Regions from separate parts of the Homo sapiens genome. Here all the other regions are linked to region 2. Evidence: fine-mapped expression QTL. A gene starts in region 2. Each other region holds a variant in brackets. All regions are shown on one strand. Distances are between the middles of the regions.

What was found.
Region 1: its variant is fine-mapped to the expression of DCST1 in esophagus muscle (GTEx, PIP 0.93).
Region 3: its variant is fine-mapped to the expression of DCST1 in whole blood (TOPMed, PIP above 0.99).

Annotation. Positions count from the first base shown.
Region 1 is chr1:155,054,780-155,062,948 of GRCh38, reverse strand. It overlaps ADAM15 (ADAM metallopeptidase domain 15), which reads right to left. Exons shown (of 23, transcript NM_207197.3): 7 at 7,097-7,159; 8 at 6,949-7,017; 9 at 6,700-6,869; 10 at 6,479-6,563; 11 at 5,848-5,996; 12 at 5,587-5,761; 13 at 5,220-5,312; 14 at 4,794-5,098; 15 at 4,508-4,703; 16 at 4,162-4,239; 17 at 2,975-3,047; 18 at 2,606-2,744; 19 at 2,117-2,186; 20 at 1,460-1,534; 3 more. The coding sequence ends at 447. The region is part of intron 1 of DCST1-AS1 (DCST1 antisense RNA 1); the gene reads left to right. It overlaps ADAM15-EFNA4 (ADAM15-EFNA4 readthrough), which reads right to left. Exons shown (of 26, transcript NR_176418.1): 7 at 7,097-7,159; 8 at 6,949-7,017; 9 at 6,700-6,869; 10 at 6,479-6,563; 11 at 5,848-5,996; 12 at 5,587-5,761; 13 at 5,220-5,312; 14 at 4,794-5,098; 15 at 4,508-4,703; 16 at 4,162-4,239; 17 at 2,975-3,047; 18 at 2,606-2,744; 19 at 2,117-2,186; 20 at 580-704; 1 more. Among named protein-coding and RNA genes, the nearest start is that of EFNA4, 4.9 kb to the left of the region's middle. RefSeq lists an enhancer at 5,402-6,212. The variant G/A (reference allele first, on the strand shown) is at 4,049.
Region 2 is chr1:155,030,374-155,038,545 of GRCh38, reverse strand. It overlaps DCST1 (DC-STAMP domain containing 1), which reads right to left and starts at 4,722. Exons shown (of 17, transcript NM_152494.4): 1 at 4,692-4,722; 2 at 4,449-4,574; 3 at 3,986-4,111; 4 at 3,819-3,893. The coding sequence starts at 4,509. It overlaps DCST2 (DC-STAMP domain containing 2), which reads left to right and starts at 4,765. Exons shown (of 15, transcript NM_144622.3): 1 at 4,765-5,112; 2 at 5,282-5,452; 3 at 5,778-5,879; 4 at 6,775-6,972; 5 at 7,312-7,377; 6 at 7,901-8,114. The coding sequence starts at 4,845.
Region 3 is chr1:154,871,184-154,879,323 of GRCh38, reverse strand. No RefSeq gene overlaps it. Among named protein-coding and RNA genes, the nearest start is that of KCNN3, 5.0 kb to the right of the region's middle. RefSeq lists enhancers at 394-443, 243-827, 1,413-1,998. The variant G/A (reference allele first, on the strand shown) is at 3,942.

The DNA.
Region 1 (8,169 bases), 24 kb before region 2:
ACCCCAGTCTGGGCAGAGGGAAGCTGCGAGCATCCCGGGGACACACGCCGACCCTTTCTGGTACTCCCGCCCCACACAGCCCGCCCTCGTCTGAGGCGGCAGCGTCTTCTGGCGGCCAAACCTGGAACCGCAGCAGGAGCGACCCGGGTTCTAGAAGCAGACAAACTCTGGGGAACGCTCCCAAGATGTCACGTTTATTGCAACTGAGCAGAGACAGGCTGTGCGGACCTTCCTCAATCCCGTCCAACCCCCAGCCCCTCCCCAAGCCCCCGCTGCAACTACGCCGGCAGGTCCGCAGAGTGTTGCTTGACAGCGCGTGGCGGTGCCCGGAGTCTTAAGACACCGCCAGTCTCTGGCGCCTTCAGTCATGGTAGGGGACTCCAGAGGGCACGCCCGCCTCTTGAAGCCCTAAGTCCGGCTTGGAGGCAGCGGAACCTCCGGAGAGGTCAGAGGTAGAGCGAGGACACTGTCGGAGGCGGTGGCGCTGGTCTGGATTGCGGGAAGCCAAGAAAAAAGAGTCAGAGGCCCCTTTCCCCCAGGTCACTCGCCCCGCCCACCCATGCCCAGGGCTCCTCCTACCTGGAGGGTACCACTAGGGGCGGGATTCCAGCCCCTGGGCCGGGCAGGTCACCCGATGGGCACCGGCCCTGGGGGTCGGCAGGCAGTGGCTTCCTTGGGGGTGGGGGCTTGGCTGGCCCCTGAGACTGAGGGAGAGAAGGCAGGAGGCCGGCTTAGGTGGGGGGGTGTCATGTTGCCCACCCCCAACGCACTGGTGCTGGGGAACACCAGCTTGGGGGCAGCACCAGCGGTCACCCTTGTCTGCAAACAAACCTGTCACCATTAAAGGCACCACCGGGATATGTGCCCTCATGCACTGAGGGGGCATCTCGCCACGGCCACCACCGTCATGGCTACCAGCACCACAGCCCTAGGTGGGGGGAGAGGCCGTGCCCTTCTCTCCCCCCACCGTTACCTTCGGGCTTCTCACCACCGGGTCAGCGGGCAGAGGGCGGGTAGGGGGATTGGGTCGGTCAGCCAGCTCAGCCTGAACAGAGAGAGGGGCAGTGGCTGTGAGAGCATAACCAGGGGCTGTGGACATGCACAGAGATTCCCCAGAGGGGTTCAAGTCAACATGCAAAGTCAGCCAGGGGGCAGGAGAGAATGAGGGCATGCGCAGAGGGCTTGGAGGCATGCCAGCTGATGTCTCAGGGGAGGAAGGTGTAGGTCAACCGCAGTCCCTGGCCGACTGCAGTCCCGCCATTGACCACCAGATGGTGGTAGAAACCAAGGCAGGAGGCTCACCCTTTGCTGCTTCTGGGGCTCAGAGTGTCTGAAGGCTGAGGGGCACCCCGATCACCTAATGAAGAGCACCACTGGCAGGGAGCAGGGATGAGAACTGCAGTTGGGTACCAAGCCTCCCACCTGCCTTGGCTCAGGGCGGGCCCTGGCCCAGATTTACCTGGAGTCTCTTGGACACAGGGTCAGGCGGCAGCGGCCTGGAAGGGGGGGCCGGGAAGCTGAGAGCACTAGCCTGCTGAGAGGGCAGGAGGGGCAGATAGGCACAGAGGGGGAAGAGGAAGCAGAGAGACAGAGTGGGCAGGGAAGGGTCAGTGCCCAGGGGGGGCCAGCAGGGGCCCAGGGCAGTGGGTGCTGTGCATGCAGTTATGCAGGTGCATGCAGGTGGGGAGCGAGTGGGGAGGAGGTGTGCACACACTCCCATCATCCAAGCAGAGGGCTCAGGGTGGGGATGCTCACCAGCCCTTCTAACATGGTGACCTGGGCCTACGGAAGGCCATTCTGAGCACCACTGCCCTTGTGCCCTCCTGGGGTCACTGCTGGGGGCATGGATAGATCCACCTCTCAAAGCCACCTCTTGGCCAGCGGACGGAGCCCAGCAGCTCCTGCTCCAGCTGGCTGCCCTCCCCACTCTTCTGGACTCAGCTTCCCTGCCTGTAGCCAGGGGAGGGGAGGGCAGGGCTGGCCCTGACTCCTTCGACTGACTCTTGGGCAGTGCTAGCCTTTCTCTGAGTCTGGAGCCTTTAATGCGCACCCCCCAGGGCCCAAGCTGGATGCCCGGCCAAGGTGGAGTCCCCTTCCTCTGGCATCCAGGACTCACCTTAGTGCCTCGTGCCAGCAGGGCCCTCTGCGGAGGTCCTGGCCGTTCAGAGGGACCAGATTGGGCTGCCCTATGCATGAGGAAAGGCAAGAAGGGAGAGGGCCCAGCCTCAGACCCTGTTTTCTACCATATGCCATCCCTGAGTGGGGTTAACCCTTTGCAGGCACTTATGTGTGGTTTAGGTAAAATTGTGGTAGGGCCGGGGTGGGGGGCAGTATTTATTAGCTTGAGGGAAGACCCTACTTATCCAGCACAGGGGCTCCTGGGGAGAAATGGCCCTAGCAATCCAGCCACCCCACAGGGGCACAGCTGTGAGGTAAAAAGCTGTGGGCACATATAGGGAAGGGAGGTGTGGGGTATGGCAGTCAGCAACTTTAAGGTCCAAGGGGCCTGGGGCTCAGAACCAGGTGGCAGGGGCTGCAGAGGTGAGGCAGCCTTCAGCACTGTCCCCAGTTGAAGGAAGTGGTAGCAGGGAGGTGATGCTCATACCTGTACTGGCAGGTGGGTCCCTTGAGCTGGCAGAGTCGCTGGTGCAGGCGGGCACGGTACCAGTAGCTGGCACCAAGCATCACCAGGACCAATAAGACCAGGAGGCTGAGGAGCAGCCCTGTGGTCAGGGAGCTGGTTGCTGTGGGCGGAAGTCAGGTTTAAGGGAGGACGGGGCTAAGAACTCTAGATCCATGAAGGCGCAGGGGGCAGGGAGTGAAGTCAAGTGATCAGGGAGAGTGAAGGGTTCAAGGGGCACAGACTCAGGGAACCAGCAGCAAAGGGGGGTCAGAAAGAGAGGGCCGAGGGGGCAAGATAAAGCATGAGACGCTTTGCCCTCCCAGCTGCCCCTGTCCCCCACCCCCATGCTACCTTTGAGCTGAGTGGTGCAGTCAGGGGGTGCCCAGCCCTCCTCACAGTAGCAGTGCCTGTTGCTGTCACAGACCTAGGAGGTACAAGGCGAGCAATGAGGAGCTCTGCACTCTGGAACTATTTCCTTGTCTCTAGCTTTTCAAGATCTCAGATTTCTACAACTGGGGGTTGTGCTGGGTATGTGTGTAGAGACAGCCCGGAGGGAGGGTCTTTATCCATACCAGAGCAAATTAGATCAAACTAACACTTACTGAGCTCCTTCTGTGTGCTGGGCACTGTGGTACATGCTTTCTTTCTTTGTGTTTGTTTTGTTTTGTTTTATTTTATTTTATTTTAGACAGCAAGTAAGATGGAGTCTCACTCTGTTGCCCAGGCTGGAGTGCAGTGGTGCAATTATGGCTCACTGCAGCCCCAAACTCCTGGGCTCAAGCAGTCCTCCTGCCTCAGCCTCCCAAGTAGCTGGGAGCATAGGTGTGCACCAGCAGGCCTGAATAATTTTTAAATTTTTCCTTGAAAGAGATGGGGGTCTCACTATGTTGACCAGGCTGGTTTTGAACTCCTGGCCTCAAGTAATCCTCCTGCCTTGGCCTCCCAAAGTACTGTGATTTGGCTGGGTGCAGTGGCTCACCCCTATAATCCCAGCACTTTGGGAGGCTGAGGCGGGAGGATCACTTGAGGTCAGAAGTTCAAGACTAGCCTGGCCAACATGGTGAAACCCATCTCTACTGAAAATACAAAAATTAGCTGGGCATGGTGGCGGGTGACTGTAATCCCAGCGAGTAGGGAGGCTGAGACATGAGTAATGTTTGAGCCTGGGAGGCAGAGGTTGCAGTGAGCCGAGATCACGCCAGCGCACTCCAGCCTAGGCAACAGAGCGAGACTCTGTCTCAAAACAAAACAAACAAACAAACAAAAAAACTGTGATTATAGGCATGAGCCATTGTGCCCAGCCTGTGCTAGATGCTTTCATACTCATCTCATGTACCCTGGATGGGGATACTATTATTATAGCCATTTGATAGGTGGGGAAACTGAGCTCAGCAAAGTTAGTAACCTGCCCGAGGTCACACAACT[G/A]GGAAGTAGTAGAGCAAGGATTAAAACCCAGATATGTCTATTTCCAAAGCCCAGTATCCTTTTCCTCTCTAGAGGCTCTCTGCTCCCCTTCCACTTCCCCCATCCCAGCTCACCCCATGTCCATGGCATTTGCTTCGACATTCCTGTGCCCCCAGGAGATCCACACGCTGGCATCGATGGTCTATACACACCTGACCCAGGGAGAGAAGAGCCTGGATCAGATTCCCACAAAGCTTTAATGGGACTGGGAGGCCAATAAGGTTGAGGCCATACCCTGCGTTTACAGATGGGGAAACCAAGGCATAGTGAGTTGATAGGACTTTGCTCCATCTGAAGTAAGAAACTGACTTCCCTTGGAGTCCCTGCCTTTGACATTGGTGAATGGTGAAGTCTGGGCTCTGTTCATTGTGGTCCAAATGTCCCTTCTCACACCTGGTCTTGCCCACCCAGGCTGCTCACCAGGCCAGGGCCACAGGCTGTGCCAGGCAGAGTCAGGAGGGGCTGGGCCACATCACTGCCCAGGTCCAGGTGCACCCAGCTGCAGTTCAGCTCAGTCCCATTCACATCTATTGTCTCCCAGAGTAGATCCCGGATGGAGCCCAGCAGAGGCTGGGTCCTACCTGTCTGGCACTGGAGCTGCCCACAAATGGCATCTCTGTGGGGAGGGGGAAGGGCACACAGAGTTAGTAGGAGCAGGGCCAAGGCTCTCAGAAACCCAAAGGAGGAGCCAGGTTTCCTCACTTACCTAGGGGTGCAGGACACATAACTGCCACTGGGGTTGCGCCCACAGCTCCCAAAAGCATTTCCCCGAGTATTAGCTGTCTGGAGGCAAAGTGGCGCAGCGGGCTGGGCTCCAGGTCCCCAAAGTGACTGGCACTGCTGGGCATAGGAGGCACAACGCCCGTGCATGCACACAGCTTGCCCGCCAGCGCAGGGCTCGCCATCCCCTAGGCTGACATCAGGGGGACACTGGGAGCTGTCTCCTGGGCAGAATTCAGGCAAGTCACAATCCCCTCTGGTAGGACGACACTGCCAGCCAGACGGGCGCAGCTGTGGAGGGTGGATGAGCATCAGTGTGGGCACTGAGCAAATCCAGCCGGGGGTCAGAATGACCCTTTCCACCTTGGCCCCGGCAGGTGAGCTCCGGGTGGCCAGTCTAGTCTCTACCCACCTGGCAATTTTGACAACAGGGTCCGTCAGATGCACACTGTGCACCTGGCCTCAGCTGGCAGGTCAAAGAATCACAGCAGGGATCGACGCAGTCCTGTGGGCAGGAGCACGGGGGCCGGGCATCAGAGCAGGTGGGGCCTGTGAGCCTCCCTCCAATCTCTCCTCCTCCCACAGGCCAAGACCAGAAGCTACACAGCAAGCGAGGGCTAGAGCCCAACAACCCATGTGCTGTCCCCACAGACAGGGCAAGTAGGAGAGGGGTGGAAAGTCCCTTCAGAACCCAAGAGCTCAGGAGGCTGGGATAGGGCTAATGAGCCAGGGTGAGGGTACAGAAGTGAGTGGGGCGAGGCTTTGGGAAAGGGGCTCACATCCAGGAAGCCACAGTCACACTGCTCGCCCGGCTCCACAAACATATTTCCGCAGAAAGCAGCCATAGGGGGTAGGCTAGGCAGCCGTTCGAAGAGGCAGCTGCCCATTCCATCCAGGAGGGCTTTCTCCAGGGCCCGTCGGCTGCAGTTGCTGAAGTTCAGGCCTGGTAGGAAGCTGGGGAGGGTGGCAAGGAAGGTTGGGGCTGGGGGCCTCTCCCTGCCCCCTGCCCCACACCCTCTCTCCATCCTGCAGCTACTTACTCTGTGGAGGCCTCCATGATGCAGGTCTTGGCTGGGGCTGGACCTGGACAGGGGCAGCTATTCCCAGGCAAATCATGGTCCAGGCCCAGGCTGTGGCCCAACTCATGGGCTATGGAGGAGGCGACTCCCAGGATGCTGGTGGAGTGGTCCTGTCATTGGGGAGGGGTACTGTAGGTCCAGTCCCAGCCTGCCTCCACCACAATGCCCAGACCACCCTCTCTGCTCCTGTTCCCTCCACGTCTGACCTCGTGGGCACTCAGCAGGCACTGCTTCCCTCCTGAATTGCTTCTAAAGTAGGAGAACCCAGGCCTGGATGGCAGAAACTTGGGTTCTAGCTCAGCTCTGTCCCCCTCCCTCACTGGAGGGAGATCACCTCTGTTCTTTGGGCCTTAGCTGCCTCCTACCCTCCTCTAAGAAATGGGAAGACTGCACAGGGGATGACTGTGTACACTGTGACTAGCTGGCCATAAGCGAGGGCTCCCTGATAGCAAAGGCCACATCACGTACCTCCACCCTCTATACCTGTAGCTTTGGGGTTGGGCAACTTTATAGGGGGGTTTCAGTGCATAAATGCCACCACACTTGGGAGGAACTGAATTGGGAATGAGGAGGAGACCTGGAAATAACTCACCATGTTCACACCTCCTGAGAAGTCAGGAGAACAGATGGAGTTCTGAATGGCCATGCCCACCGTAGGCCCAGAGAATGAAGTACCACTGTGGGACAGAGAGGCTAAAGTTCAGGGCCAGAAGCCACGGTGGTCAGAGCTTCAGGGGCTGAGGTAGGGTGCTGAAGGGGTGTGAATTTGGCCAGGACAGGACTGGCCTCTCTGGCTGAGTCTGGGGCCCTTACGTCACCAGCTGGGCACTGTCATGGGGCAATCGAGGCAGCAAATGTGCCCTGCGCCAGTGGAGGAAGTTTTCGAGGGTGACAGCTGGGTTTGGGCTGATCTCCACCAGGTCACGCTGGGTCCAGGCCTCCAGGCCCACTAGTGCCACTCGTACATTCAGGGGCCGGAAGAACTGAAAGACAGCTGGGGCTCAGAAGAGGGGTTGCCATGGTCAGGGGCCTGGGGTGGGGGTTGCCCTGTCCAGCACTCACTGTGTCCAGCAAGAGGGCCACTTCCAGTGTGCGGTTTAGCAGGTGCTGGAAGTCCCGGTATTTCTGGGCCTGTAGGCCAAGAGAGGTGACATGAAAGGCGGCAGGGCAGTGCAGGGGGAGGAGGATGTGCAGGGGCCAGCAGGCTCACCTCCGAGTGATCAGCCACAATCACCAACTCCACAGTCTTGGTCTCTGTTACCACATCCCGCCTCTACTATGGACAAGAAGAATTATCAGGCAAACCTGCCGCTCGCAGCCAGCAGCTGTGCCGGGCTGACCAAGAGGCAGCCACTCCTACTCTGTGGGTCAAATAGGAGGGTGAAGAGCCCATTTTACAGATGAGCCACTGAAGGCCAGAGGGCCCAGGAACTTGCCAAGGAGGACCAGGAAGTAGATAATGAAGGTTGGAGTAGACCCCTGCTTTTCTGGCTCCAAACTCAGTGGTTTTTTTCAAATTTTTAAAAAACAGTAATTTAGCTGGGTGCGGTGGCTCACGCCTGTAATCTCAGCACTTTGGGAGGACAAGGCGGGTGGATCATGAGGTCAGGAGATCGAGACCATCCTGGATAACACGGTGAAACCCTGTCTGTACTAAAAAATACAAAACATTAGCCGGGTGTAGTGGCGGGCGCCTGTAGTCCCAGCTACTCGGGAGGCTGAGGCAAGAGAATGGCGTGAACCTGGGAGGCGGAGCTTGCAGTGAGCCGAGATCATGCCACTGCACTCCAGCCTGGGAGACAGAGCGAGACTCTGTCTCAAATAATAATAATAATAATAATAATTTTTAAAAATCCCAATAACAACTCTTGTCACTTACCATAGGTCTGGCATAGTTTTAAGCACTTTACATCTATATGGACTTATTTAATCTTCCCAGCAACTCTATGCAGCAAGTAGTTTTATTATCTTCATTTTACAAATTAGGAAATTGGGTTTATATTGCTTCATCATTGGTAACTATGTATTATCTATAACCAAGTGAGAGCTCTCTGCAAATGGGATCATAAGACAGATGAAGAGCCAAATACAACTAATAAATGGATAGGCCATTTATTAGTTGTAGGGCCTCGGGCAAACCACCTAATCTGTCTCAGCTAGATTTTATTTTATTTTATTTTTATTTTATTTTTTGAGACGAGGTCTCACTCTTTCACCCAGGCTGGTGTGTAGTGGCTCGATCTCGGCCCACTGAAACCTCTGCCTCCTGGGCTCAAGCGATTC
Region 2 (8,172 bases):
AATCCCAAATCCTTACACTTCCTCCATCTCCACTGTCGTGGTAGAGTCCCCATCATCTCTTACTGGGACTATAACCTGATGAGTCTCCCTATGTCCTCTCTTGCTACCTTACACTTCAGTTTTTACAAGGCAGCCAGAGTGATCTTGCAAAAGCATAAATCGGATCATGTCCCTTCCCTGCTTCAAACCATTCGGTGGCTTTCTACCACATTTGGTATAAAATCCGAACTCCCTAACATGGTCTACCTAGCTTGTGATCTGGCTCCTGCCTGCCTCCTGATCTCATGCTATGCAGCCCTTCACCCACCATGTCTACCCACACAGACCTCGTTGCTGCTCCTTGGACAAGCCAAGCTCATTCCTCCTCTCTGGTCTTTGCCCTAGCTGTTCCCCCTGCCAGGAGCACTCCTCTCCCTGTTCTTCACATGGCTGGCTCCACCTAGTCATTCAGGTTTGTGGCAAACCCTGTCGGGTGCCACCCCACAGTTTTTTTTGTGCCTTCTTCCTTGCTAACACAACTTGGGTTTTTTGCAAGGGCAATAGCCTGGCCCTGCCCCAGCCCCTGAGGGATAAATCTGGATCTGTCTAAACCAGTCATGGTAGAACAGGACACTGAAAGGGACTAGTTCTGTGGTCTTGGCCTTCTGGCCAAAGACTCGAGCTGAGGCTAATAGTTGACAAATAGTTGCCCTATGTTCTAATGAGAGCCCCATGGAGCTATGGGTGTCTTCTTTGGGCTCACCAAAACAGCAAAACTTGACTCTCACTCCTCTATCCCACCCCATCTATATAAAAAGAACAGCAATATGGGCCAGGCATGGTGGCTCACGCCTATAATCCCAGCACTTTGGGAGGCCAAGGCGGGTGGATCACTTGAGGTCAGGAGTTTGAGACCAGCCTGGCCAACATGGCTGTCTCAACTAAAAATATAAAATTTAGCCAGGCATGGTGGCAGGTGCCTGTAGTCCCAGCTACTCAGGAGTTTGAGGCAGGAGAATTGCTTGAACCCGGGAGGCGGAGATTGCAGTGAGCTGAGATCGTGCCACTGCATTCCAGCCTGGGGGACAGAGCAAGACTCTGTCTTAAAAAAAAAAAAAAAAAAAAAAAGACCAACAATGTGGATTTCCTGGAAGGGGAGAAAAGTGGTTGGAATGGGCAGGCAGAGAGGGAGAGTCTGTGGAGAGGATGGGTGTCACATGTCAAGTGAGAGACTCCAGGAGTCCAAGAGGCTTCAGGGACTGGCGCTGCAGGAAGGGGAACCTGCCTGGTCTCTGTAGACTAGACTCCTGCTGAGTGCAGAGCCTCATGAGGCCACTCCAGGGCTCCCACCAGAGCACAGAGTGGAGGGAGAGCTCCTGGGAGAGCTCAGCCTCTGTAATGCCTCTGTAGACCTCCCCTGGACGATGTTGGCACACAAGCATGGAGACTGGCATCTGCTTCTCATCAGGGCAGGAGAGAGGCAACCATAAGGTGCTCTGCTTTTGATGGGGCGTTGGTGGCTCACGCCTGTAATCCCAGCTCTTAGGGAGGCAGAGGCGGGAGGATAGCTTGAGCCCAGGGGTTTGAGACCTGCCTGGGCAATATAGCGAGACCCCATTCTCCACAAAAAGGAAGGTGCACTGCTTTCTCTGCCTGGCAGGGCACGGACGTGTGCACTCCCAGCCTGCTGGAGGGAGGGATCCAAAAAGCAAGAGGCTGTGGGTGGCCCCTGAAGGGGGGCTTCACTCGAGGTCAGCCAAAAAGAACTGCCCTCTGCAAGAAACCGGGCATTGCCGAGGTCCACACACAGCCTCCAAGGGGACAATAATCAGGCCTACTGGGACAGCCAGGGTGTGAGTGCCTGCTACACGCAGGCATCCACAGTGGAATTATAATAGCATTAGTGACTTAAGACTTTTGTCCCTTTTCCTCTAATTCTTCTAATCTCCCTTCTGACATCAGAAGAACCAGAAAGGGAAGGAAGTAGAGGAAAAAAGGGAAAGAGCAGGCCACGCCCCTTCTCCATTGCAGGACCCCATGCTAGGGAGCAGGCCTGAGCTGGGGGCGCAAGGGATGGGGAGGGCAAGATAAGGAGGGAAGATGCTTGAGAATGGATGAGGTTAAAAGTCTGATGTAGAGTGGACTGGACCTCTTTAACCCCTAAAAATAAGTCTTAATTGTTGAAGTAGGACTAGGTCTTCTAAAGAAATACAACCAGAAATCTAAGGGGCTGTGTGAAAGGTTATCAATGGGAAAAAACATGTTTGAATACAGTGGGTCAGAGAAAAAGTAGTCTCCTGTTGGTATCCAGCAGGATTAATTCAATAAACAGGTGATGAAATGCTAATTCTATTTCCCTTGCCTGGGACAGGTTCAGGAAAGGGCATGTGTTGCACGCAGTTCTGACCAAAGAGATGTGAGGAAGTCTACTGTGGGGATTATAGGCAAGTTTCCCTTGTTCCTAAAAAGAGACATGAGGAAAGGATGTTTCTTCCTTTTTTTTTTTTTTTTTTTTTTTTGAGACAGAGTTTCACTCTGTCACCTAGGTCATTTTCCTTTTTCCCTGGCCTCAAATCGCACAGCCCAAGACAGTGAAGTTGGGCCTGGGATTGAACTTCTATTCTTTTCTTTTTTTTGAGATGGCCTTTCGCTCTTGTCACCCAGGCTGGAGTGCAGTGGCACGATCTCCACTCACTGCAATCTCTGCCTCCTGGGTTCAAGCAAGCCTCCTGCCTCAGCCTCCCAAGAAGCTGGGACTACAGGTGTGCACCACCACATCCGGCTAATTTTTGTATTTTTAGTGGAGACAGGGTTTCACCATGTTGGCCAGGCTGGTCTCAAACTCCTGACCTCAGGTGATCCACCCGCCTCAGCCTCCCAAAGTGCTGGGATTACAGGCGTGAGCCATTGTGCCTGGCCTGTTTCTTCCTCTTTTTTTATTTTTTTCTGATCTTTGATATTATTGTATGAAGATGTGATGCCAGAGTTGCTGCAGCTATCTTGTGACCTGAAGAGAAGTGGTCAATAGACTGAAGATGGCAGAGAAAAGACAGAAGGAACCTGAGTCCTTCTCGAAGCTACTGAGCTGTTAAATTATCCAAACTGGGCTGGGCACGGTGGCTTACACCTGTAATCCCAGAACTTTGGGAGGCCGAGGCAGGTAGATCTTTTGAGGTCAGAAGTTCGAGACCTGCCTGGCCAACATACAGAAACCCCGTCTCTACTAAAAATACAAAAATTAGCTGGGCATGGTGATGGGTGCCTGTAATCCCAGCTACTTGGGAGGCTGAGCAGGAGAATGGCTTGAACCTGGGAGGTGGAGGTTGCAGTGAGCTGAGATTGAGCCACTGCACTCCAGCCTGGGCAACAGAGCGAGACTCCGTCTCAAAACGAAAACAAAAACATACAAACAAAACCAAAGCAAAACGGCTGGATGCTTGTCATCCTTGTTTACTGCTAAATCCTCAGCAGATTCTCAGTAAGTGCTGAGTGAATGAATGAATGAATGAATGAATTTAATTTCTTAGGAGGATCAGAAAACGAGGTCAGACAGGTCAGGAGAGATGAGAGTTATGAAGGGTTATGGGGTTGGACTATATCATGTGGGTGATGGGGAGTCCCTCGGAATGGAGAGACTCCCTCAGGGCAAGGACGGTGTCTTCCTTCTTAAATTGGCAGCCTCTTCCCTCTGGACCTCCCCGTAAAGCCCAGGAGGAGGCGGAAGCCACAGGGGATGTATGGGTACAGAAGAAACAAGTCCCGACTCCTTCCTGGGCATGCAGGACGGCGCTGTGTTCCACAGGCCGCTTGAGTGTTCCTGGCTTTTGCCCAGCACTAACCCACCAAGCTGTACAAGAACATAATCTTCTGTTCTTCGTAGATGTTCATGGGGTTCACCAGGAGCTGAAAGAGACCTAAGGGCACAAGGTCAAGCCAAAGGCCAAAAGATGGGTCCTAGCCCTGGTCCAGCCTCTGCCCACCCCGAACTTTCTGCTTCCACACTCACCTATGGCCAGGAGCCCCCCAGCGCCTGCCCCCAGCAGGAGAGCAGTGACAGGAAACTCGCCCGGCTGGCGCCACAGGAACCAGCTACAGGAGACTGGCAGCCCCCAGGTCAGGAGCCTCTGCACCGCTAAGAGGGGGACAGGGTAGCTCAACAGCCCACTCTTCTGCCTGGGATGGGGCTCATTAGGATTCAGGGCTTGCAGGTGGATAGAGGCTGGGGAAACCTGGCATGTGAAACAGTAGGAACTTAGGGGACCCTGGAGGAGGATGAGGGAGCCTGAGGAAGTGGTATGGGTGTAAGGGACAGCAAAGGCAAGGGCTGGGCTGGGAGGCGGGAGGCACTAGACCAGAGAGGTGGTGGAGGCGCGGACACCGAGTTGGGGGATAGTGTGCAGGAGTTCCAGGAGGAGAGATGGGATGAGAGTGGAGGTCAAGGGATACTGGGTCTCTGCTGAGTGACTCACTGGTATGAGGCTGTTTTCTTCTTTGCCCTCTTGTGCCATTCTGATGATGTTTAATGTCCATGAGTCTGTTTTGGGGAAGCACCACTCATCCCAGGTCTCCTGAAGGACCTCCTTGGACACAAGGTTCTGGTGAGAGAAGAGAGGTGCTGCCTGTCTCTTCCGCTTCATGGGAAGCCTAGGCCTGAGCTCTGGGCCTTTTAATCCTTCTGCTCCGAGAAGTGGGGAAGGAGATTAGAGACCTACCTATCCCCTCTCCAGTCCTCGGAACTGGGTCAAGGATTCCAAGACATATGCAGTGAAAGCCCTTTGGAACCTTAGAATACGGTGAGAAATTCCAGGAGCACAGAAGTCAGCGGGCATCTCCTGGAGACAGGCAGACATTTGGTCTCAGCAGCCATGCCCAAAGTCATGAAGGATGTTGTGCACCCCTTGGGGGGAGAGGAGCCTAGCATGGCGAGAGCTGTGGTTCGCAGCGTGGGAGGTTTTACCCTGGGCTTGTCTTTAGCCACGGCCTACGGGCTTCTGGAGCTACTGGTGGAAGGCCACAGCCCCTGGGGTTGCCTGGTGGGCACCCTCACTTTGGCTGCCTTCCTTAGCCTGGGCATGGGATTCTCTCGCCAGGTCCGAGCCACTGTCCTCCTGCTGCTGCCTCAGGCCTTCTCCAGTGAGCTTGGCACCCAGGGCTAGGGGGCAGGTCCTGGGGCTGGTGCTGGGGCAGAAGAGATGCTGGAGGAGAGGCAGGGGTTAAGGGAAATATTCTGAAGGCTTATGTAAGGGACTTGCTGCCATGTTTGGGGCTGGGGTCTTGGTTCTAACAAAGCTGTCGCCCCCAGGGCAGGGCCGGACACTACTGTTGGTGGCTGCTTTTGGGTTGGTGCTTCAAGGGCCTTGTGCCAACACTCTACGCAACTTCACCCGGGCCAGCGAGGCTGTAGCCTGTGGGGCAGAGCTGGCCCTGAACCAGACCGCCGAAGTGCTACAGAGGGCCAAGCAACCTCTTGTCAGTAAGTCCCCCACCTCTACCACTGTCTCCCACGGGCCCCCCTCGCCCCCCTCATCCTGCATGTTCTACAGTCCTTTGGCCTCCTTCTCTGCTGGTGCTAATCGCGGAGCATCTGGGCCTGGAAGGGACTCTGGGCACAGCTAAACCCTCTCTCCTTGCTCTCTGGCCTCCTCCACTCCCAGATTAACGATCTCCCAGGCCCCAGAATCCAGGCTTCCCGCCTCTGGAAATGGTGGCCTCCTCTCTACTCCCTGCTTAAGGGGCAATGGTGAGAACCAGCCCCTAGAGGAGAAGACTCCAAAGTGCCTCTGTCCCTCACCCATCAGGTGCCCTGAACAAGATTAAAGCTATTGCCCGGAAGACCAAAGAGGTGGCTGACCGGGTCCGCAAGTTCTTTCGGTCAATCATGGATGGTGTGAAACACATAGGTAAGCACATTAGCATGTCTATCCCGGGGACTCAAAATGCACCCAGTCCTGGCCGGGTGCGGTGGCTCATGCCTGTAATCCCAGCACTTTGCGAGGCCGAGGTGGGAGAATCACTTGAGCCCAGGAGTTTGAGACCAGCCTTGGCAACATGGCGAGACCCTGTCTCTATAAAAAATAAAAAAATAGAAAATAAATAAAACTAGCCAGATGTAATGACACATGTCTGTAGTCCCAGCTACTGGGGAGGCTATGGTGGAAGGATCTCTTGAACCCAGGGGTTTGAGGCTGCAGTGAGCTATGATCGTGCCACTGTACTCCAATCCAGCCTGGGTGACAGTGTGAGACTCCATCTCTAAAGAAAAAAAAAAGCGGGGGGGCCAGGTGCGGTGGCTCACACCTGTAATCCCAGCACTTTGGGAGGCTGAGGCGGTGGATCAGGAGGTCAGGAGATCAAGACCATCCTGGCTGACATCGTGAAACCCCGTCTCTACTAAAAATACAAAAAGTTAGCCGGGCGTGGTGGCACGCAGCTGTAGTCCCAGCTACTCAGGAGGCTGAGGCAGGAGAATCTCTTGAACCCAGGAGGCGGAGGTTGCAATGAGCCGAGATCACTCCACTGCACTCTAGCCTGGGCAACAAGAGCGAAACTCCATCTCAAAACAAAACAAAACAAAACAAACAAACAGAAACAAAAAAATTCAGTCTCCTCACCTGTACCCTGTCCAGGGTTTTTTGGGCCCCTTCTGGGCGCTGGCTAGTGTTCACTGGACACAGCACAGCCAGGTCCCTGACCACAGGCCTCTCCAGCCCTGGATACTGTGGTATTGTTCCCCAAAACCCTGAGAAGAGGCTGTAGGATTCCAGCCCTGGGTGCCAACCCTGCAGCTGTCCCCAGCCAGGGCTCTCCGGAATGTGTGGCAGTGGCTCCTGCACATCGGCGATGTGTGCAACTCGGAACTGGGCAACCCTTACCTGAAGTGTGCACGGGTTTTCGATGATGCCAAGGACAGCTGCATGATGGTCATACCACAAGCCTACCACCTGTGTTACGTGCTCATGCCCTTCAAACTGGCGCTCTGTGGACTTGCCAGCCGTGAGAAAACCAGGGTCTGCCAGCGGGGAGGAGCCGATGTGGGGTGGGGTGGGGTGGGAATGTGGGGGTCAGTTGGGAGGGCAGGCTCAGGAGGACGATTAGAGGGCAACAGAGAGGAACCAATAAGCTTGGTAGGACCAGTATTGGGGGTGGGGGTGGGCAGTAGGGAGGGACTGGTGTTGGGAGAGAAGGGCGACAGGGAGGTGCTACAAGGTTTTGAGCAAATGTGGAGGCCAATAGGAAAATCGAAAAGAGGCCCTGTGAGAAGAGGTCTCCAGAGGTCGGGGGCAGGCCTGGCTGTGCCCCTCCTTCCGACACTCAGCCGACTCCGCCCCTCAGTGGTCCAGGTGTTCTGCGTCATCCCTAAGTACATTCAACCCTTCTTGCGCCAGACCATCGGCACCCGTGAGTGACCCCCTCCTGCCACATATGGTGCTCCCTAGTGGTCTCCCTCCCTCATCCCGGTGTGGCCATGGCCAGCCCCCAGTGCTCCCAGCCCATAAAGGAGAATGTAAGAGAAAGAAAGGGGCTCAAGTGATCACCCAGGCCCATATCCATGCTGTACAGATCAGGAAACGGGTCCAGCGAAGGGCCAGTGCCTCACCACAGCCTGCCCTGAGAGCAGGAGCTGGGAACAGAACCAGGGCCTCCTGTCCACATTCAGGTCCACACTCAGGTCATCAAGATCATTCCTTAGGGGCATCTGTTGCATGCCCTGTGTCATGCTGGGTGCTGAGCATGTGATGGCGATGGCACAGATACGTGGAGGCTTTGTCCCCTCCTCAGTCCACCTTGACCCAAGCACTGGGGGGTTCCCAGCTGGTCTGTAAGCTGCGCCCCCTGGGCTGTGCCAGGCCCCTCCCCAGGGGCAGCTCCACCCTCTCCTAACTCTCCTTGCCCACGTCTCCCCTGAACCTGCTGGCCCCAGCCGTGATTCAGTTGCTCAACCGGGTGCGTCAGGAGTTTGAGTTCAACATGACAGCCACCCACCACTTCTCTGTGGATCTCAATGCCTCTCGGAGCCTGTCCCAGGTAGCCATGGACCTCCACGAGGCTGTCAGCATGAAGCTGCACCGTGTCCGAGAGGCCCTGGCTCTGATGGGCTTCACCACGCCTCTGCTGCTTGTGCTTCTCTACCTCCAGTGAGGGGCTGCCGGGCAGCGTGGGGGATGCAGGGCCGGGGGTGCAGGGCCAGGGCTG
Region 3 (8,140 bases), 160 kb after region 2:
TGCCACCTTTCCCAGGAGCGAAGGGAGGCAAAACAAGGGCGGGAGGCAGGAGAGGGGCCTGGCCTTCTGCAGGATTCCTGTCAGAGGGCTGGGCACCCAGGTTGCAGCTCCTGACTGTGCCTGGTGGCTGTGCTGAGGGGAGAGGGGGCTTCTTCCCTCGTTTCACAGCAGCAACCGGGAGTGGAGCTGTGTTGGTGGATGCCCCATAGCAACCGAGAGATGATGGACCAGTTGAAGGGGACCATCGCGGAGGCCGGGCTCGAGTCCCGGCTTTGTGCCTGACTCACGAATGAGTACAGGCAAGTCCCCTCCCATCTCCGGAGGTCTTCTCTTGCTAATAGGGTGGTGGGCCTGGAGGCGCCTCTGGCATCCTGTCCAGCCCTCTCATTCAAAGGCTTTATGGTGCCCTCACCCGGGACAGACAACAGATGGTTTCTTCTTCCCCAATGGTGAAAAAACCCAAGGAAGCCTGGGAAATAAGAGCGACTTTTGCAAAATATTCACAGAAGTTGATTCTGGCACCAGATCCAGTCCCTGGGCCTCCATGGAAGGAAGCAGAAAGCTGAGGCCGGGGTTCAGATGCTGTCTGGGGGCTCCCTCGCATCTCCCAAGGTGCCTGGAGTGCGAAGCTATGTGCATACGCCACCAGCAGAGGCCGCCACACTCCTCACAAACCCGCCACAGGTTGCTCTGCCCCCATCCCCATGGGTGAGCACTGACCAGCTCGGACCGCAATCTCAGAGCCAGGGCGGGGCGGGGATCTGCTACTGGCCACCTGGGGTCCAGGGAGGGGCTGGCTCAGGGGGCTGTGGCCTCAACTGCCAGCCGGCCCTGCTCGTCCCTCACTGCCCTCCCTGTGGGAGAGACATCCATCCAGGCCCACGAGACACTGGCCGCCTTCTTCCCTGCTAGGAATCCATGGCTGCTCCGGTCTGGGCCCTCCCTTGGGCTGCTGCTCAGGTGCCTGTTCTGCATTTGGGAAACTGTTAGAGTTTTTTTTTTTTTAAATTATTATTATACTTTAAGTTTTAGGGTACATGTGTACAACGTGCAGGTTTGTTACATATGTATACATGTGCCATGTTGGTGTGCTGCACCCATTAATTCGTCATTTAGCATTAGGTATATCTCCTAATGGTATCTCTCCCCTCTCCCCGGAAACTGTTAGAGTTTTTATTTTCTGTGAGTCGTTTGAGACTGGGGCCAGGAAGCTGATTTATTCAGCAAATCTGAATTGAGAACATGCTCTATGACAGGCCCTGTTTTGGGCACTGGGGTTATAGCAGTGAATAAAATAGACGCAAATCCCACCCTGTGGAGCCAAGTCTCCAGTGGGGGTGGGTGTCATCACCTACACCACAGTGTGGGGCTGGGCAGGACACACGCACCCAGGATGGCAAGTGATGGCTCTCTCTACCGAGTCGGCCCCATGCAGACAGTGGACCTACCCAGACTCTGGGGCCGAGGCTTCCATGCTGAGCCCTTGTCAGTCAGGGGTCTGCACAGACCCCTCTCTTGTACTGGCCAGTGCACGTCGGCAGCACTTCACCGTGTGCAAAGTATGCACCTCCACTGGCTCCCTGTGAGCCCGGCAGGCATCTTGGTGACAGAATGTTGGCAACCTGTGCCCATTTCCCATGCCTTCTTTCCAGACACGGTATCAGCACCTTCCATTCGACCTTTGACTCCCTCAAGTAAATAAACGTTCCCATCCGGACTGACTCATCTGGTTAGAACAACAAGTTCCTACACCAAAGCCTCAGAGAAGGGGTCAGGAGACACATTTTAAAATGTATCTCAGTTTTCACAAGACAACTGTGCAGGAGGTGTGAACGATCCCAGTTTCACAGGCTCAGAGGGGCGCACCTTGCTCGTCATGGTCCCTGGCAGGAAAATGGCAACTCGGAATCAGATGGACCGATTCCCAGCCCAAGACTGCTCTGGTGCCTGGCCTGGCCTGGCCACTCCACTGTCTTCTCTCCATGTTAGGGCCATCCTGGCCTCTGCAGAGTTTTAGAAGCAGAATCACCAACCTTTGTCCAGACAGATCTCCATGGAGCTGCTCTTTTGAAACCTTTTCCCACTCCTGTTGTTAGAGGGGGTTTCATGGAGGACCTGGGTGGGAGTGGTGGGCAGGAGGGATACTTTCTCTGGAAAGCAATGAAGTTCAGTAGCAGAGGCTGAGTGGAGAGGTTGTGACCTCTCAGAGCGCATAGACCTGTGTGGCTCATGGCTTGGACTCTCCCCTCCCACTGTGAACAAGAGCAGGCCAGTTAACCTTCTCTGAAATTTGACTCAGTTTCTTCATCTATAGAATGGGCATACTAACTTTACTCCCTGGCGTGTTGGAACCATGAATGCCCACAGTTGGCCCTCAGTAAATGCTCCAAGTGTAGGGAGTCAGGCCGTATGTCCCCTTTACCTTGACACTCAGATGATGCAAAAGAGCTCCAGTTTTTCTTTAGCAAAGCAGAGTATGGGGAGGAGCCTGTGTGAAGCTGAAGACTCCTTGGCACCCATAGGTGGCTGAGAGTTGTTGGTGCGTGGCCAGGGGACAGGTGACATGCTGTAGTCCTACCTTGCTCCTCAGATCATGGCTTGCAGGGGCAGGGGTTAGGTGGGCATTCATTATAAGAGGCTTCACCCAGGGTCTAGACATCCAGGGACTCTCAGGAAAGAAGTGTGGACAGAAGGCCTACACTTACCAGTTGGCATTCCTGGTGGCCAGCCGGGCAAGTAAGGGGCAAGTAATGTGTCCTGGGTCAAAGTGCCCAAACTCTCAGTCAGGCTAAACTCACTCACCCTCTTACCTGCTTATGTATTCAACACACAATTTGGGTGCAGCGTGAAGTGCAGTGTTTTGTGTGTGTGTGTGTTTTCCAATTTATACCATAAGCTCCTGTCACCAAGGAGCTTATGGTGTCAATTAAAATCAGGGAAATTAGCCAGGCGTGGTGGCGGGCGCCTGCAATCCCAGCTGCCCGGGAGGCTGAGGCATGAGAATCGCTTGAACCTGGGAGGCGGAGGTTGCAGTGAGCCAAGACTGAGATCGCGTCACTGCACTCCAGCCTGGGCAACAGATTCTCTCTCTCTCTCTCTGTATATATATATGATAAAATCAGGGGAGAGAAGACATATATCTATAGACAACACCAGTACAAAGCAAGAGGTGAACAGTGTCCCCAGAGAGATACAATAAAGTGCCAAGGGAATTCGGAAGAGGGAGATAATGTCAAATTGAGGGAGGAGAGGAGGGGAGGTCAGGGAAAGCTCTGGGCAGGGGTGGCACTTGTGCTGCTCCCTAAATTCTCACAGGACAGGACACAGAGCAAGAGGTGGGCTGGAAGGGCTTTCCAGGCAGAATGGATGGGAAAGAGCACAGACAGACCCAGGTTCAAATCCATGCCTAACTGGTGACCTTGAGCAAACTACTGAAACCTTTCTAAACTCTAGTTCATGGGAGTAAGAGTGGCAACGATGAGGCAATAGAACCTCCCCAGCCAGCCTTCCAGGGCTGCCAAGAGTTGCAAATGAAATATTTTACATAAAAGCAGTTGGAAAACTATAAAGTGCTCTGCAAACACAGGATTTGTTTTTATTATTGGAGCATTAATTAATCCAGTAATGAAGCTCCTAGATAAGAACACAGTAATGACTGAACCCACATGGGCTAATGAGCTGTTCAGCCTAAAGCTGTCCAACCATTCAGAGTCTGAGAAAGGGGGTGGTTAATCTTTATGACCCTATCCTTACCAGGTTAAGGGTATCCCTCCAACACCACTGGCTTTTCTAGAAAACCTGCCATTATCTGTCATTTGTGTCTAAACTCCCTCCATCCATCCATCCATCATCCATACATCCATACATCCACCCATCTATCCTCCCATTCATCCGTCCGTTCATCCATCCATCCATCCACCCACCTATCCACCCATCCACAC[G/A]TCCATCTGTCCATCCATCCTACTATCCATCTGTCTAATAAATCTTTTTTTTTTTTTGTGATGGAGTCTTGCTCTGTTGCCTAGGCTGGAGTGCAGTGGTATGGTCTTGGCTCATTGCAACCTCCGCCTCCTGGGTTCAAGCAATTCTCCTGCCTCAGCCTCCTGAGTAGCTGGGATTACAGGCGCTCGCCACCACGCCCAGCTAATTTTTGTATGTTTTTTTTTAGTAGAGACGGGGTTTCACCATGTTGGCCAGGCTGGTCTTGAACTCTTGACCTTGTGATCGGCCTCCCAAAGTGCTGGGATTACAGGCGTGAGCCACCAGGTCCGACCAATAAATCTTTAATGAGTAATTCATAGCCAGGCACCGTGATCAGTGTTGGGGATACTGAAAAAATTTAGAGCCCTTTTATGCAGGTCACAGCCTGTGGGAAAGACAGCCATATAAACCATGAACCACTACTTTTCTTAAACCTATTTTCAGTTAGTTCTACCTTTTGGGGATAACAAGGTCTACAGACAATAGATTATGGAATTTTAAAGCTGAGTGATCTTAGAAATCATCTTTTTTATCTCACTATTTTACGGATGAGGAAATTGTGTTTATGATTTGTTGTGAAAAGTACTGTGACTTTCCCTTACTTGCCTTCAAATGACCTCATCCAGGTTTCAAGTTTAGTCAGTTCGATTAATCTTTACTAAGCATCTATTGTAAGCGGCTCTTCGGAAGAGCTGCAGTACAGCTGTGAAGAAGACATCATCCCTGCCCTCAAGGAGGTCATGGTCTATGGGCAAAGGACACATATGGAGATAACAGCTGTGTTGCTCCGTAGAGGCCCTGTTAGCACAGGGCACTGAAAATACAGAAGGAGCTCCTGATTTGGGTTTGGGGAGTTCAGGGGAAGCTTCTCAGAAAGAAGACCTTTGAGCCATGTCTTGAAAGGCAAAGAGAAATGTGTTAGATGGAAATCTGGGGGAAGGGCATGCCAGGCAGAGGGCATGGAGATGTGAAATAGCATGACTTACGGGAGAGCTACAATAGGTCGGTGATGCTGGGGCTTAAGGAGGAAGGTGGTGAGGAATGAGCCTGGAAAGGAGGGCAGAAACCGAGTGCCAGTACACTTGATGTGGAGCCAGTATGGCCAAAGGCCACCCCTACTTTCCTTGTCTGCTCTTCCTGTCTCTCTGAGGTAAGAAGCTCCTCCACACCCCCGTTTGCAGACTAAAGAGGCCTAATTTGTCAGCCTGTCATCTTAGGGCAGCATAAGGAGTTGCTCCCCATTCCTTAAGGTGTGGCTTAAGTCCCACCACCTCCAGGAAGCCACCCTTGACAACCCTCTGCCTTCAATGAACTCTACTGTCTCGCCCACACTTTGGGATCTGCATTGCTGTTTTTTGTCACCCCATGTAAGTATAACTTGTCTCTACAGTGAGACTTTAAGTTCCTGAGGGTTGGGTGTGTGAGTCACATGGTAATGTTTAATAAACACCAGTAAGAATGAATCCTTTAAATTTGGGTTTCAGGACATATGGCGAGGGTTTGTCAAAAGGTTGGACAGGCCTGGGTTTGATTCCAGCTTTATGGCTAGTTACTAATTAGTAACTCTGGGCAAGTTTTAAAATCTTTTTAATGCCTCAGTTTTTTCATCTATAAAATGGGTGATGGCCTCAACTCACAGGCTGCTGTGAAGACATGGTTGTGGCTGGGGGCCAAGGGAAGCATTGGGGGCTTTTCAACAGTGGGGCTTTGGACAGGCAGCAACAGCGGGAAGACGCCTGAGTGCGGTGCATCTGGAGGGCAACGTGGAAAACCTGACATGATCAGGCCCTGTGGTTGAGAGCTCCCAGCTGATTCACTAACCTGTCGGTGCTTGACAGTTACAAAGTACTTGGCCGGTGCTCTCATTGGACTAAGGAAATTGAAGGCCTGAGAACATAAGCAACTGGTCACAAAGTGGGCGAGTGGCAAAGCTTGTGCTGGTGAGAAGGAAGGCAGAGGGTGGAGCGCACAGCCTGTATGTAATGATATAGGAGGCAGTAATATGCTGATAAATGTTGAACAGCCAGGAAAGATTTAGCAAGCGGCTTCCAGGAAAACATAAGCTCTAATTTACAGTGTTAGCCGATTTCTGTGGTGTAAATACTCTGATCATGGCTGATTTCAAGCTGCTAATGTGACATCACTGTGGAGTTAGGAAGAGATGTGTATGGATGATCAGAAGGTCATCTTGCCTGTGGTCACACAGCCATCCCTGCAGCAGAGAACGGTTCCAGCCTGGGCAGTCTGACACTTGAGCCCAAGCTCTAAACATGACATTGTCCTCCTCCTCCTGTTCATGACAGGATAGCTGTAACAAGGGGCATGAGCTGGCTCCGTGGCATCAGCTGTCAAGTTCCAGCCCATTTCCAGATAACCACTGATCTTTGGTGCTGGCATAGTTAGGGCTCTACCCAAGCTATCTTTCATCCTTATCCATGATGGCAGGACGTGCTCTGATAGGCCCCATTTGGATCCCATTGGCACAGCCAGAAGAACTGGAGGCAAGAGGCTGGCCAGAAAGGTTAGCTGAGGCAGAAGGCAGCTCATGGGGGTAGAGTGAGCATAGGAATACCCAGGCCTGGAGCCTGTTCTCCAAAATTGATTTTTCACAGCCCAGAAAACTGTATCCAACACTAAAAAACCAACACGAACAGCACATTTTTGCTACTAACAACATATTCATGATAATTTATTAGAGGATCATTAAACCTAAGTATGCGATCTGGAGCCTTGAACCAAGCAGGTGGCTCTGTCTGCGGATGGAGGAGAGGGAGGGAAATCAAGAATACAGAAGGGAAGGGCAGGGAAGGCAGAGGATGCTGAAGGGGTTGGGGGTGGGTTCTAGAGGGCTTGGTCATGGGAAAACACATGAGACCCCAGGCTTGCATCTGAGGCCTGGTACTGTGACTTCTAGTGTGTGTGTGTGTGTGTGTGTGTGTGTGTGTGTGTGTGTGTGTGTGTGTGTTGGCAGGGGTAGGGGAAATGATTATGTCATTGATATCAAGATTATTATTTTATATATATATATATTTAGAGACAGGGTAACACTCTGTCGCCCAGGTTGAAGTGCAGTGGCGCTATCACAGCTCACTGCAGCCTCAAACTCTTGGGCTCAAGCAGTCCTCCTCCCTCAGCCTCCTGGGTAGCTGGACTACAGGCACTCGCCACCATGTCCAGCTAATTTAAAAAATTTTGTAGAGTCTGGGTCTTGCTATGTTGTCCAGGCTGGTCTCGAACTCCTGACTTCAATCAACCCTCCTGCCTTGGGCTCCCAAAGTGCTGGGATTATAGGCATGAGCCACCATGCCTGGCCAGAATCAAGATTATTGTGCAAGAGTAATTGTCACGTATCTGGGGTCGTGGCTTGTATTACAAGTAATATTTAGCTCTCAATCATCAGGGTTAATGGGGGATTGGAGAGGTGAGAACTGATATACAGAGGGGACTCTGGGCTCATTTTGGGGGGGCTCTGTCCCTCCCTGATCTGGACACTTGCTGCTTACCAGTCAGGAATGCTGTTTTAGGAGCTTCCTATGTGTATATGTGTGCATGTGTGCATGCATGGGCTAGTGTGTGCACACAACCATGTACACATGTGCACATATGTCCACCTGCTTACATGTTTTCTGGATGTGTGTCTGTGTATGTGTGCATGGATCTCCTACCCTTTCCTCTTCCCATCGAGGGAGGGAGCTGGACAGAGGCCAAAGGGTGATGGGGAATCAAGAGCCAGAGAGGAAGAGGCCTGCCTTTTAAAACCCCAGGTGTTCTGGGGAATTCCCTCATGGTGACTTCCTTTCTGATTCCTAAGGCTGCTGTGGTTAGAAATGAAAATGAATTCAGCTCTGGTCCCATCCTTTGGAACCCCCTCTGCACACAGTGGGGGCTTAATAAATACTTGATGATGATGGTTCTGAACCTGGGAAGCCAGCAGCTGTTCCTAGTTCTGACTCTCAGAGCCCCATGGGGCAAATCAGGCAGGGAATGACCATGGGGGAATCTTCAGTCTTCCTGCCAGATCCCCCTGTGACTACACACCCAGCTGTTAGGGAAGGGGCTGGAGCCATGGTCCACTTCACACACCCTGCTTTGGAGAGGCCAGTTCTTCCTCAGCAGCTTCTCTTTTGTTTTCCCCAACTAACATTTGAACAATATTTAT